3 linked regions of the Homo sapiens genome follow. The protein of the gene in region 3 interacts with the protein of the main gene of each other region in a pairwise test. Each region holds a gene or a part of one and is shown on either strand. Other genes may lie near its edges.

Region 1 (3,744 bases), on a different chromosome or scaffold from region 3:
TCTCAAAAAGCCAGATCCCTGGCTCTTTGCCTTAGCCCAGCCCTAAGGCTGGCCTTGCAGGGAGGGCAATGCGGGTTCCACTCTCCCCCTCCGCCTTTGCCCTCTTTGCCGACGGATTGCAAAGACTGCAGCACTTTTCCTAAACAAAGCCAAGGTTACCTAGCCCAGCAAAGGCAGTAAGCCCTGTTTCCCAACTCAAGCACCAACCAGCCCAGCCATCTCTTTCCCCTCACCACCCCCAAGCTCGCAGGATGCGGGGTGCATACACTTGAACACGAACACGGTGCCCTGGATCACCTTAACATGATCATTGGGCTCAAGGCAAAACTGGAACTGCAAATCTGAGCAGGAGAAAAGAGGCTCTGTGGTCGTGTTTATGAGCCGCAGGTCTCCTTTGCGCTCTTTTGTTGTGTTCAGGTCTAGCTCAGGAAAAATAAAACCGGCAAGCTTTTCCTCTGCCCGGGCGCCATCAGCGTGGGGCCAGGACTGGCGGAGAGGGCCAGGGCAGCAGGGGAGAAGCGGGGACTATCTCAGGGCTGAGATCACCCCTCTAAAACCAGGCGGAGCAGCACCTGCCAAGTCGGGCTCCGGCTCGGCGCTGGGCACCCCGGCACTCCCTCTCTGCCGGGTTCCCGGGCTGCGCGCCCCGCTGGGGTGGCAACTCTGCTCATACCGACCTTTGCTTTCCTTCTCCTGCACTTCGGGACTGGACACGGAGACCTCAGCCAGGCAGCTCCTCTCTTCGGGAAGGCCGCCTTTGGCCTCGGGGCTCTCCACCTGGGAGACTTTGGTGGGCTCCTGGCCGCTCACGGGCTCGTTCATCTTCTTTTCCATCTGCAGCTGGGCAGCGGAGAGCTGCGGCTTGGCCGCGCCACGAGGGTTGAGCTGGAGCATGACAGTGGAGCTGCCTTCGGGGCTATTATTGTACTCTTGGGTTTTCCCGGTGGCGTAGGTCTGACTCAGTCTAAAATATCCAGGGACGGGAACCTCAGGGTTCTCAACGGGACAAGACTCAGGGACCAGCCTCTGGTACGAAGGGACCTCGGCCGAAATGAGTTTGTTGCGCTTATCAGAATACATGCAGCAATTGGATTCTTCCTTAATGTTGGTGGTGAAGGAGCAAGTGGGGACTTGCTGTGTAACAGGTTGCTCTATTCGACAAGATCTGTTCGGATCTGTCCAACTGTCTACTTGAGGTATATAAGGATGCACATTCATACCCATATTTTGGTGGTTCACTTCTCTTTTGGCCAGAGACGGGAGCAGTCCACAGGTTTGCATTCCATAGGTCCCCATGTCTGCGCTAGGTGGTGGCATGTACATGCTGGCGCTGCTGGAATAAAAACTGTCACTCCTGCAGGCACTGATCAAGGAATCTACTAAAAAAGTATTAGCAGCAGGAGAGCTGTTGGGAAAGGACATTTTGGGGAAGAATTTGAAGAAGAGAGATTGTGTCCTTTGTAGGCTGACATCTCTAGGAAAACATTCCCCGTGTAATTGTGGATGCCTCTGCCGACCACATGACAACCAAGCCAATGAGATTTGAAAATGGCCTTGAGCCGCAGCCTCCTCTCGGGTCACGTGCTCCAGAGCCTGGCCGGCCGGCCGGGTAAGCACGGACAACAGCGACATCTACTACGCGCCCGCGATAGTGCGCGCTGGAGACAACCGGCCCAGCGCTCTCCGCCGCCCTCCTGTCCGCCTCTCCAGGGCTCGCTCGGCCAGCCCGCCCCACTCGCGTCCCCCGCTTCGGCCCCTGGGCCCAACCGGCGGAAGGAAAGTCTCAGCTCTAGGGGCCTCCAAGTGGACACGCACGGACGGGGAGGGAAGCCAGAGTGCCCTGGCGCCAGCGCACAGAAGCATTCCCCCCACACACAACCAGGCAGAACGCGCTTAAGAGGGCCGGGTCCAGGACAAGCGGGTGGGGGCGCAGGCTGGTTAATTTAGTCCCGGGCAGCCCAGCGGGAAGGTGAGTCGGATTCCGCGGGCCCTGAGACATCCCACCCCAGGGGTCCAAAGGAAAGATCCCTTGGGGCTAAGAAGCGGCCAAGGTGTCTCTAGGAGGGCGGAGGCAAAAAGGGCCGCGAGGGCCGGGAGGCCAAGCAGCTGGCCGGGCCCGGATCCCCATGGATGGGTTGGTCCCTGCGTTGTCCTCCCGCTCGGTCCTCCTGCCTGGCTCCGGGTTCCTATGCGCCCCGGAGGGCTACACGAGGCTTCGGCTCTCAGAGGAACCACACCCTGACCTCTGCGGGGCCGGACCTCTGGGAGCTTTCAGCCCAGAGACAATTCTTTGCCAGCAGTTCACTATCCGCGAAAGCGTCCCTCGGGCTCCCTGTAGGAGAACTAAACAGAGGTTTCTCTCCCCACACCCTGATAATGGAGGGCAAACAGGAAGGAAGAAAGGAAAAAATAATTTAAGAAAAGGGGAAACTCTGACCCTCAGAATCCAGAAGTTTTAGAAAACTGACTGGGCCAAGAAGGACAGAGAGAAATGCAAAGGTGTCATTTTGGTTCTTCTGCAAAGAAAAATGTTTTCCTTTTATGGATTTTGTAAAAGCACTGGTTTCTGACAAGTGCAAGGTACAAAAGGTTGTGGAATTTATTAATACATATTAAGAAGAATCAGGGCGATCAATAAAATTCTCATCTACATTCTTGGGCTACTTGGTAATTTTCTTGCTTCTGAAGGTTTTTAAAGAGTTATGCCCGCTGTTGCCACACACGGGAAGATACTTTATTAACAAATCAATCGAGACTTTGTAAAGGATAAGATTAATAGTTAAATTTACCATAATGGCGTTCGCTTTATGAATTATTGAAAATTATACTATTGATTTTTTTCCCTTCGCTGCTAACCAAGAAGGTCATTTTTGTTTTAATACAAATTGTCAAATATTAAAAGCTATACTTTTGTCAGAAGTTGAGTTTTACAGTTTTGGACAATTTCTGAAATTATTTGACAAGGCTTTGCTTGGGTAAGGGAGGGGAAGGAGGTGGGAATCTTAGTTCTCTGTTTCCTTTGGTGAGGGAAACTTCTATGAAGAGGATATGGTCTGGGGTTGTGGTCCGGCTCATTAAAGAACCACCACTACCACCACTACCACCACTACCACCACTACCACCATGGAAACTCAGAGTTTTATGAGAAACTTCAACAACTTCCTCCCTCCCTCTCTTGCTGCAGGCGGGTGAGCCGCCCTGCGGAAGCCCGGGCCTCGGGGCAGCAGCGGGGAGCTTTAACCTTGATTTCCAAAGACTTGCCCTGAGTGAGGGGCCGGCCAGGGCTTGGAGCCGTCCTTCGGCCTGCCAGGTTCCCTTCCTGCCAGCCAAGAAACTAAAGCGGTCCCAGAAACTCTGACCATGAACCAGTTCTCAGTCCGGGAGGGCATCTGTGTTCTCTTTTCCCCGTACTCGCTGGGGCATGGGCTGGCCTTGGATTTCAGGCCCAGAGACTGAACTTGTGGGTAAATTGGGTTTCCACCTCAATAGAACATTTCTTTGGGGCCTGAGGTTCATTAAAGCGCCTCAGCATTCTGGGGGACCTAGTAGCCCGCCCGCTCCTTTACAAAAACCTTTCCCAAAAAACCCTTTGTCCCTCTTCCCAAAAAGGAATCTCCCCTGGCCTGGTTGAAACAAGCGTTGAACATTATTTTCGGCCTTGGGACCCTTTCGCCTGTTCCCTCTCGGTGCTCTCGCCCAAACAATAACCTCTTTTAAAAAACTCCGCGGTGGCAATGAGACAGA
Region 2 (3,744 bases), about 20 Mb from region 3:
ACTGTCAGCGATGGGGTTCAGCTGCTCCTCCAGACGGCTGACGGCTCAGAATCAGGGCTGTCCCAGGTCTTTCTTGGCTGGAACCTGAGCCACAGAGTGTCTTTGTGCACAGGAATCTGTGCAGCCCTATGGGTCAGAGCAGGGCCCTTCCCAGGCAGCTCCACTCACCCTACCTGGGTGGCCCTAAGCCTCACTAGCGACACAGGCAAGTGCCTCCTGGCCGAGTCTTGGGAATTGGAGGGGGCAAGCTCAGCTCCAGAAACAGCAGCCACCATCTGCCCTCATGAATTCACAACACCCAAAAAGGCAGAGAGGGACTCTCCGCCCCACCAGCCCATGGTGAGACCAAGATGCAGAGCTGGAGCCGGCCGCTCCGCACAGACACAGCTCCCCCGCTCCAGCTCGGCACTCCCAGATAAAGCAGGCACCTCCTGACTTCAGAAATAAAACTTTTTTGTCACTCCTTTGTGTGTTTCTGTGGAGAGAGTTGGGTTTCATCCACAAAGAAGCCCTGGTGGCCAGTCCCATGTGGAAAGGAAGGCTGGAGCAGGACCCATTGTAGGCGGTGGGCTCGCCCACTTCGGGGACCCCCTGCAGCTTGTGGAAGGGCCTAAAGTCCCCTCCAGTTTGAAGGGAAACTTTTCCCCTTTCTCCACCCTGTGAAACAAGAGTGGAGGTAAATTTGGACGGAAAGGAGTCAAGAGCCCATCCTAACAGTTTTGGCTGAGCCCTGTGGGGCTTGTTCAACACCTATGGGTAGGGGCAGGGTGTCTGCACCTGCTCAGTTGGTCCACGGGTACAAGCACAGTAGGTCAGGCTGGATCCCATGGGTGTGCAGGCCTCATGCTGTGCCCAGCCACGCGCCACCACCTGGCCCACATCAGTGGGCATGTGTGCTCTGGGGACGTGGTACTAGGCATTGTTTACAGGGCCGAGGGTCGTGGGGTCTGTGCTCATGCGCGTGTGGGGTGTGGAGCGGCACGAGTGTGTGTGGTGTGTGCGTCCTCTGTGTATAGTTCCATTCCTTGGGATTACTGGGTCCCATGATTTGGGGCGGGCAGTCAAGGACCATGGAAAGCATGTCTTTCCTATTTTGTCCTCAAACTGAGATCCCCATGATGCCCAAGCTCGGGGTGCAGACTTGGCTCAGAGCAGAGTCAACTCAAACACTGACAGGTGACAGAAGAACTTTCTGGGTTAAGGAGGGTGAGTGCAGAAAGACGGCCAGATGGGGTGCCGGGTCAGGAAGGGTTTGGAGAGCTGGCAGGGAGGAGAGACTCACCGCAAAATAGGCAGTGTCCCCATCGGTCCAGAGCACCACGAGATCTGCGTTCTCAAGCTCGCCACGGTCGGACATCCCAAACAGGACGCCAGCCTTGAGCCTCCGCACCAGGAGCTGGAAATGGATGGCCTCCTGGGTGTAGCTGACATTCCATGAGAGCTCCAGGGACCCCTCCGGGTCCAGGGGGATGTGATAGGGGAGGGGGCTCTCACGGGGAGCCGAGCCCTGCAGTGCGGCCACCAGGATGACCAGGAAGATGGCCACTGCTGTGCTGTACATGAAGGCTGCCTCCCGCATGCTGGGGCCGGGCAGGCTGGCCCAGCGACTGAGGGCGGGCATGGCTGGGGTGAGCTCTCTGGTCCCACCTGGCCATTTATGCCCTGGTCCTGAATGGGGTGGGTCCAGGCAGCACGGGTAATCACATTTGTCTAGCGGGGAATCCAATTTTCCCTCCCACAAGCTTGCGCCCCAGGCCAAGCACTCAGCCTGCTGCCCTCCTCTAATTGGCACTAATGACACATGGACGTCATCAGTGGGAGTTGAAGTAGACAGGCGGATGCTGTCCCTTCTGAGATGGCTCTGAAGAGCTGTCCCAAAAGCAGATGCACCCTGCAGCCAAGAGGCCTTTCAGACACCCTCTGGCCAGGCACCAGCTGACTGCCTCACAGGCTGTCTGGCCCAGTCCCCAGTGGGATGGGGTCTGCGTCGCCTCTACCCACGGATGAGCAGACTGAGGTCCGAGGAGCTGCTCCAGGCTGACCAGTGAAGGATAGGCCCGTAGCCACTGCAGGCCTGGCCTAGCGAGCAGAGCCGTTTGTACAATACTAGCAGGTGGGCCCATTTCAAACCAAAAATAAGACAATCTCCAAATAGTCCCTGTGTTTAGACACTCTCTCCACGGCCTGCTCTTCCCACTTTTGTCTCCTCTCAATTTTTCCACAGCCTCCAGCTGGTACCACTGCTGCTCCAGAAGGCGCGAGAGCATCATAGGGAGTGGGGGACATGGGCGTGGGGTGCATTGCTGGGGACAGACGGAGCTGGAGCTGCACAGGGGATAGGCAGGCTGCAGGGTGCACTGCTGGGGGTGACAGCCTTTAAGGAAAAGAGGGTGAGTGACAGGCCTGCTCCCCTGTCTCTGAAGCTCCCAAACCCACAGCTTCCTCTTGCCCAGAGCAGATCTGGCCTGAATTTGAAGCCTCTCAGGGCAGCTGGCCGCAGCCCTGCTTCTCCCACACCTGCCACAGGACCTTTGCCATCATCCACCCGTGGGCCCGAGGGTCAGTCTCACCACGGCACCTCTCCCTCCTGTCCTCTCCCACAAGTAGACTGAGGGCAGCTGCCTTCAGGACATTCTGCTTGATCCCTCCAGCTCCACCCCCCAGGCTGGGTTGACAGATCTCTCCAGCTGGACTAGAAGCTGTCCCTCCTCCCCAGCCTCCTCCCTCCCTTCCTTCCTTTTCCCTCCTGTTTCTCGTCTCTCTGGAGAAACCCAGAATCTAGCCTTAGGGGCACATTCATGTCATAGGCTGACAGCAACATTTAGGTCCTTAAATACCCATGACAGCAGGTCTGGAGGCTGCTTCAGCTCTGAGCTCTACGCTGTAGAAAGGAATGACTGTGTCTTTGCACGAACGTGAAATTTGGAGAAAGTGCCAGCCTTCCCCTGGCCCTCGCAGGCAGTGCTCTCTGCCCCACAGTGGCCAGGCCATCCTGCAAAGCCAAGCTCAGGCCATGAGCCCCTCCCCACTGATTGCACCCAGAGGGGCACCGTTCGCCCCCACCCACAGCCCAGGCAGGTGAGGTCCAAGTGCATAATCACCTGTGCAATAGAGTGTGGCATTGGTGTGAAATTGTCTCCCAGGCCAGGGGAAAGACACTCTTGGGAGTTCTCTGGTGAGCCTTGGGAAGGGTCTCAGCCTCCGAAGGCCTGGCTTTCCCATCAGGACATGCCACCTCCGTCGCCTGAGAGCACCTCACCTTCATGCCTCAGATTAGTTCCAAAACCTCCTCACCTGTGCCTTGTAAGCAGGTGTCTGCTGCATCCCGGACATTCACTCTCGGGACTGGGGAGCGGCCACAGCGAGCCGGTGATACGAAGAGCCTCCGGGGTGGGCAGGCACTGGTGTTCCCAGCACGGGATAACAAAAGCCAGCAGAGGCAGAGGTGAGGGTCACGGGCTCCACAGCACACCCAGCTCAGGGGTGAGCCCTCCCAGCAGCCTGGTGGCCACCCAGGTGGCTCCAGCTAGACAACAGGCTAAACGAGCACCAGCTGGGGCCCGCGTTGTGGGAAGGGGGGCACCTCTCTCCCCTCTGGGGTATTGAGGCCCCAGGCACCCCTCCTGCTCCTCCGGGGTCAGAGCTCTGGGGTCATATCCTGCTCCGCCCTCCTGAATGCGCAGCTGGCGTCCTCAGAGAAGCGCTTTCCAACCCAGCGCCTCCTCCCCATCTACAGACACAGGA
Region 3 (3,744 bases):
GGGGGAAGGGAATCAGAACTCTACCCCATGTCCATTCTAATCAGGGCCTCTGTATCTGCCGGGAGGAAGAAAGACCTATTCCTCCAAATCCCAGACTTCCCCTAGTCCACTGATCTAACATCGTTCACCTTTAGATTTCACCTAACACTCCATGAACTACATGCTGGCAAGAGGTGGTCTCATAAAAGCAGCAGCTGAATGAGCACACCCCTTCCTGCTAGTGAGGGCCATCTGCCACCCCTGGATAATCCTACTCTTCTCTTCCCTCAGTTCTGGCACTCAGCACCAGCCCAGTAAATGGTCGTGGAATGAATAAGTGAATGAATTAATGAATACAGAACACTTTTACTGCAACCAGTGGCAAGACATTCAAAGAGAAACAAACACACATTTACCCACAGAATTGAAGCTCACTTCCCAATTTTTTTTTTTTTTTTAGCAACCCATAGTAAAAGAGCAACTCAAAAAAATATGCACTGATTTTGAAGCAGCTCCAGTGAGAAATGCAACTTGCTATTTGGGCTAGTCAGGTTCCTGGATACCACTGTGCAGCCCTTTGGCACAACTTGCTGTGGAGCTCTGTGGTCAGAACCGCTTCTCTGCCCTTCCATGACGCCACACTCACACCCGGAGGTCGCTCCACATCTCCCAGTCCTTCAAGCTTTTCGTTTTTTTGTTTTTTTTTAAAATTGTTCCCAGAAGCAAACACATGGCCTGAACAATCCCTGGATTGTAAAATAAACAACACTACAAAGGAAGACAATACCAAATGAGGCTCCGTAGTCACCATACCCAGCAGCAACCGAAAAAGGTTTGGTTTCTTGTCTGGGAACAGCACTCACCCCACACCCCAAAGGAACTGCTTGGTCCAAAAGATGGAGAATATGAGCAACAGAGTGACACTGAGGATGACGGCCATCAGGTAGGCAAAGATGCGGAACTGAGGGTTGCGGAAACACTCCCTCAAAGAGTGGTGGCTGGGGATGAGGATGGGCGTAGACACGGTGGCAGAGGCCGTGTCTGGGGGCGGCCCAGTCTGGCCCCCAGGCTGGGGGCCAAGGTCCAGCGTGTAGACTTGAGGCTGGCGCAGGAAGTAGCGGCTCTTGGGCTGGTCCTTGAGGCACAGCTGATGGCCTTCCAGGATGACATGGTGGGGCTCCAGGCGGAGCAGGGCGAGCATGGCAGTGTCCGTGGGCAAGTCAGTGACAGGCTGCCCTGAGGCCAGCACTGTGGGCTGGCGACAGAGTGGGCACAGCAGGCGGCGCCGGGCTGGAGTCACAAGGCTGAGGTGGGCCAGACATTCCACGCAGAAGGAGTGGCAGCAATCCAGCATTTTGGGGGTATGGAACGTGTTGTTGAAGGGGTTCCAGCAGACGGGGCACTCAGCCTCAAGCTCCCGGCCCTGCTGCTCAGCCATCCTCAGCCACACACGGGGAGGCTTCGCGGGAGACGTCCTGGCAGAAGGGGGAAAGGAGCAAAGGAACAGCCATGAAGTCCCATCCTTGTGCTTGGCCTGGGGCAAAGTGTTCTGTGGGTGTTGAAAGGTGTAATCACCACGTTTTACTTAGGTTCAAAAGCGTTTTGTTCTTGATCACCAGTTCCTAACCCATCGAGTTGAGTCAAATGCTCCTACAGCCTCCCCTCTGTCAAGGTGAAGGCCTGGGCCACCCCTACCAAGAGCCCCCAAGAGAGCCGGCATTGGAGCAGATGTCGCCCTGGGCTTTGGAGCTGGACGCAAATGCTCCTTATGGTCATTGTCTGTGCCCTTGGCTGCCCTGAATCCAGGGAGCTGGGGGTAAGCTGCAGTCTGCGGGTTTTGCTACAGGACAAATGTTTCCTTCCCTGCTACCTCAAATCCCTGACTAGCGCAGAGATGGGTTTTGTGAATTCCCTGGTCTGTCCCTCCTATGGGGACAAATGCCAGCCCTCTTTCCCTCCTCCCCTTGAGCTAGAGGGCCAACCCTCCACATCCTACTCACCCAGTCCTTGGCCTGGCAAGGAAGCCCCTGGAAAGGCCTTTCTCCTTACCTGGAAGCCTTGCAGAAGCTTCCCTGCCCCAGTCCCCAGATCAGCCCTTCCAGAGCCTCTTCCCCTTCCAGAGCCTCTTCCCCTTCCAGAGCCTCTTCCCCATCCTCTGCCTACCCTGGCTCCTCCTCCCTCCCTTTGTCCTGGGAAACCTTCAGGGCACGCACCTGGGCTTCTGTGGGCTCCAGGGTGGTCAGGCAGACTACTCTGGAGGGCCTGAGGCTCCAGTTGCTCCCTCCCCTGAATCGGCAAAGCTTTGGGAGACTGCCTTCTTGCCACCAACCCAGGGGCCTGTCTCCATGGCAGCATGCACGCAGCACCTGGGGCTGCCAGGTGGCCCAGTCGGCAGCCTCTTGAGCACACCTGCTTGGAGCCAAGGCCAGAGAGCTTCCTGGGGGGTGGGGTGGGGAGGAAGATGGGGGACCTGAGTTCCCCCCAGGGCATGGCAACTAATTGAACCTGGAAGCCAAGCACCTGTGAGATTGTGGGCAGTCCCTTCAACACCTGGAGTCCCTGGTCTGGAAAGGTAGGGTGGCAATTTCGTCTTTGTAGATGTGAAGAGGGTAACTGAGTCTTCTGGGCTTCCTCTCTCTGGGGCCCTCATTTCTCTTCGAAAGTGGCTGGAACCTCCTCCTTGCACAAAGGGGCTGCCTGCTCAGCACTTTGGTTGCTGTGAAAGTCACCTACTTCGAAGCTTAAGAGCTCCGACTATCAGATTCAGTCCAGTCACCCGCTGATCTTTTAATGTGCCTAAGTAACTGCAATCAGCGTGTACAAACCTCGCTGCCTTCTGCTTTGTTCTTAGCACACAGCTGGTCAGCCTTCTGAGATCTTAGAGCTGGCCATCCCACCAACCTTAGGGAGTTAAAGCGGGGAGTTGGAGGGAGGCGCACTCCAGCCCAGCTTCTCCGTTTCAACCAGAAATACTTGGCTTTTCTCTGTTTCTCATATGGGTCATTCGAATAATTTGAAGAGTTGATCTGCTGGGGAAAAGAAAAAGTTTAAAAACCAATTCTCCATCTGAACTACTCACTTTGCAGATGAGAGACAAGAAGTGACTCACCCAAAGTCACCCAGCTAGTTAATGGTGACATGGGACCCATGTCTTCAGACTCATGGTTTTCGTAAAGACAGAAGGCTGCATCCATGCCGTCCCCCTACTCAGTGCGTGTTACTAGCTAGATAATAAGTGTTTGCATGTGATCAGGAATCCTTCACGGCCAGAAGACTCATGGTAGAAATCCAGGAACTGTGGAAGAGGGGATCTGGGGGAAGGGAGTCTCCCTAGAGCCCCTGATATGACATCATCTACCCCGACTGAGCCGATGTCTGAAGCAAAACCTGCTTATACTCTCGGACCTGTGGCTTCCTGGTTTTCTTCTAGACCTCTGGCACTGCTCCAAACAGGGAAGGAGGAAATGAAGATATGCAGAGGGAGATGGAGCCCTAAGCGAAACTAGGGTAGTTTAGCAGGGCTCTGCACCAGTGCTTTATTCTGCAGTCCATTCATCCACTCGGACATTATTGAGTGCTTACTCTAGCCCAGGTGCTGTGCAAGGTATTATGGTGAACAAAATAGACATTGTCTTTGACCTCATGACATTTAGAGTGTAGTGAGGCAAAAAGACATTTAATGAATAATGGGCAATAAATAAATACACAATTTTAATGGTTGTTAATAAAGGGCAAAAAGGAAAATGGGCTTCGGGTGCTTGGTGG

What was found.
Region 1: the proteins of RNF183 (region 3) and HOXD10 interact in binary tests that used the Homo sapiens proteins (3 or more experiments, as listed by UniProt).
Region 2: the proteins of RNF183 (region 3) and DBH interact in binary tests that used the Homo sapiens proteins (3 or more experiments, as listed by UniProt).

What each region holds. Positions count from the first base shown.
Region 1 is NC_000002.12:176,114,512-176,118,255, reverse strand, and holds the start of HOXD10 (homeobox protein Hox-D10), read right to left. Parts: upstream 1,479-3,744; 5' UTR 1,423-1,478; coding exon 678-1,422; intron 1-677. UniProt on the Homo sapiens protein: Sequence-specific transcription factor which is part of a developmental regulatory system that provides cells with specific positional identities on the anterior-posterior axis.
Region 2 is NC_000009.12:133,634,249-133,637,992, reverse strand, and holds the start of DBH (dopamine beta-hydroxylase precursor), read right to left. Parts: upstream 1,631-3,744; 5' UTR 1,622-1,630; coding exon 1,283-1,621; intron 1-1,282. UniProt on the Homo sapiens protein: Catalyzes the hydroxylation of dopamine to noradrenaline (also known as norepinephrine), and is thus vital for regulation of these neurotransmitters.
Region 3 is NC_000009.12:113,296,768-113,300,511, forward strand, and holds the end of RNF183 (E3 ubiquitin-protein ligase RNF183), read right to left. Parts: exon of another isoform or gene 3,089-3,744; intron 3,009-3,088; 5' UTR 2,805-3,008; exon of another isoform or gene 1,455-2,804; 5' UTR 1,418-1,454; coding exon 839-1,417; 3' UTR 326-838; downstream 1-325. UniProt on the Homo sapiens protein: Acts as an E3 ubiquitin ligase catalyzing the covalent attachment of ubiquitin moieties onto substrate proteins. Triggers apoptosis in response to prolonged ER stress by mediating the polyubiquitination and subsequent proteasomal degradation of BCL2L1.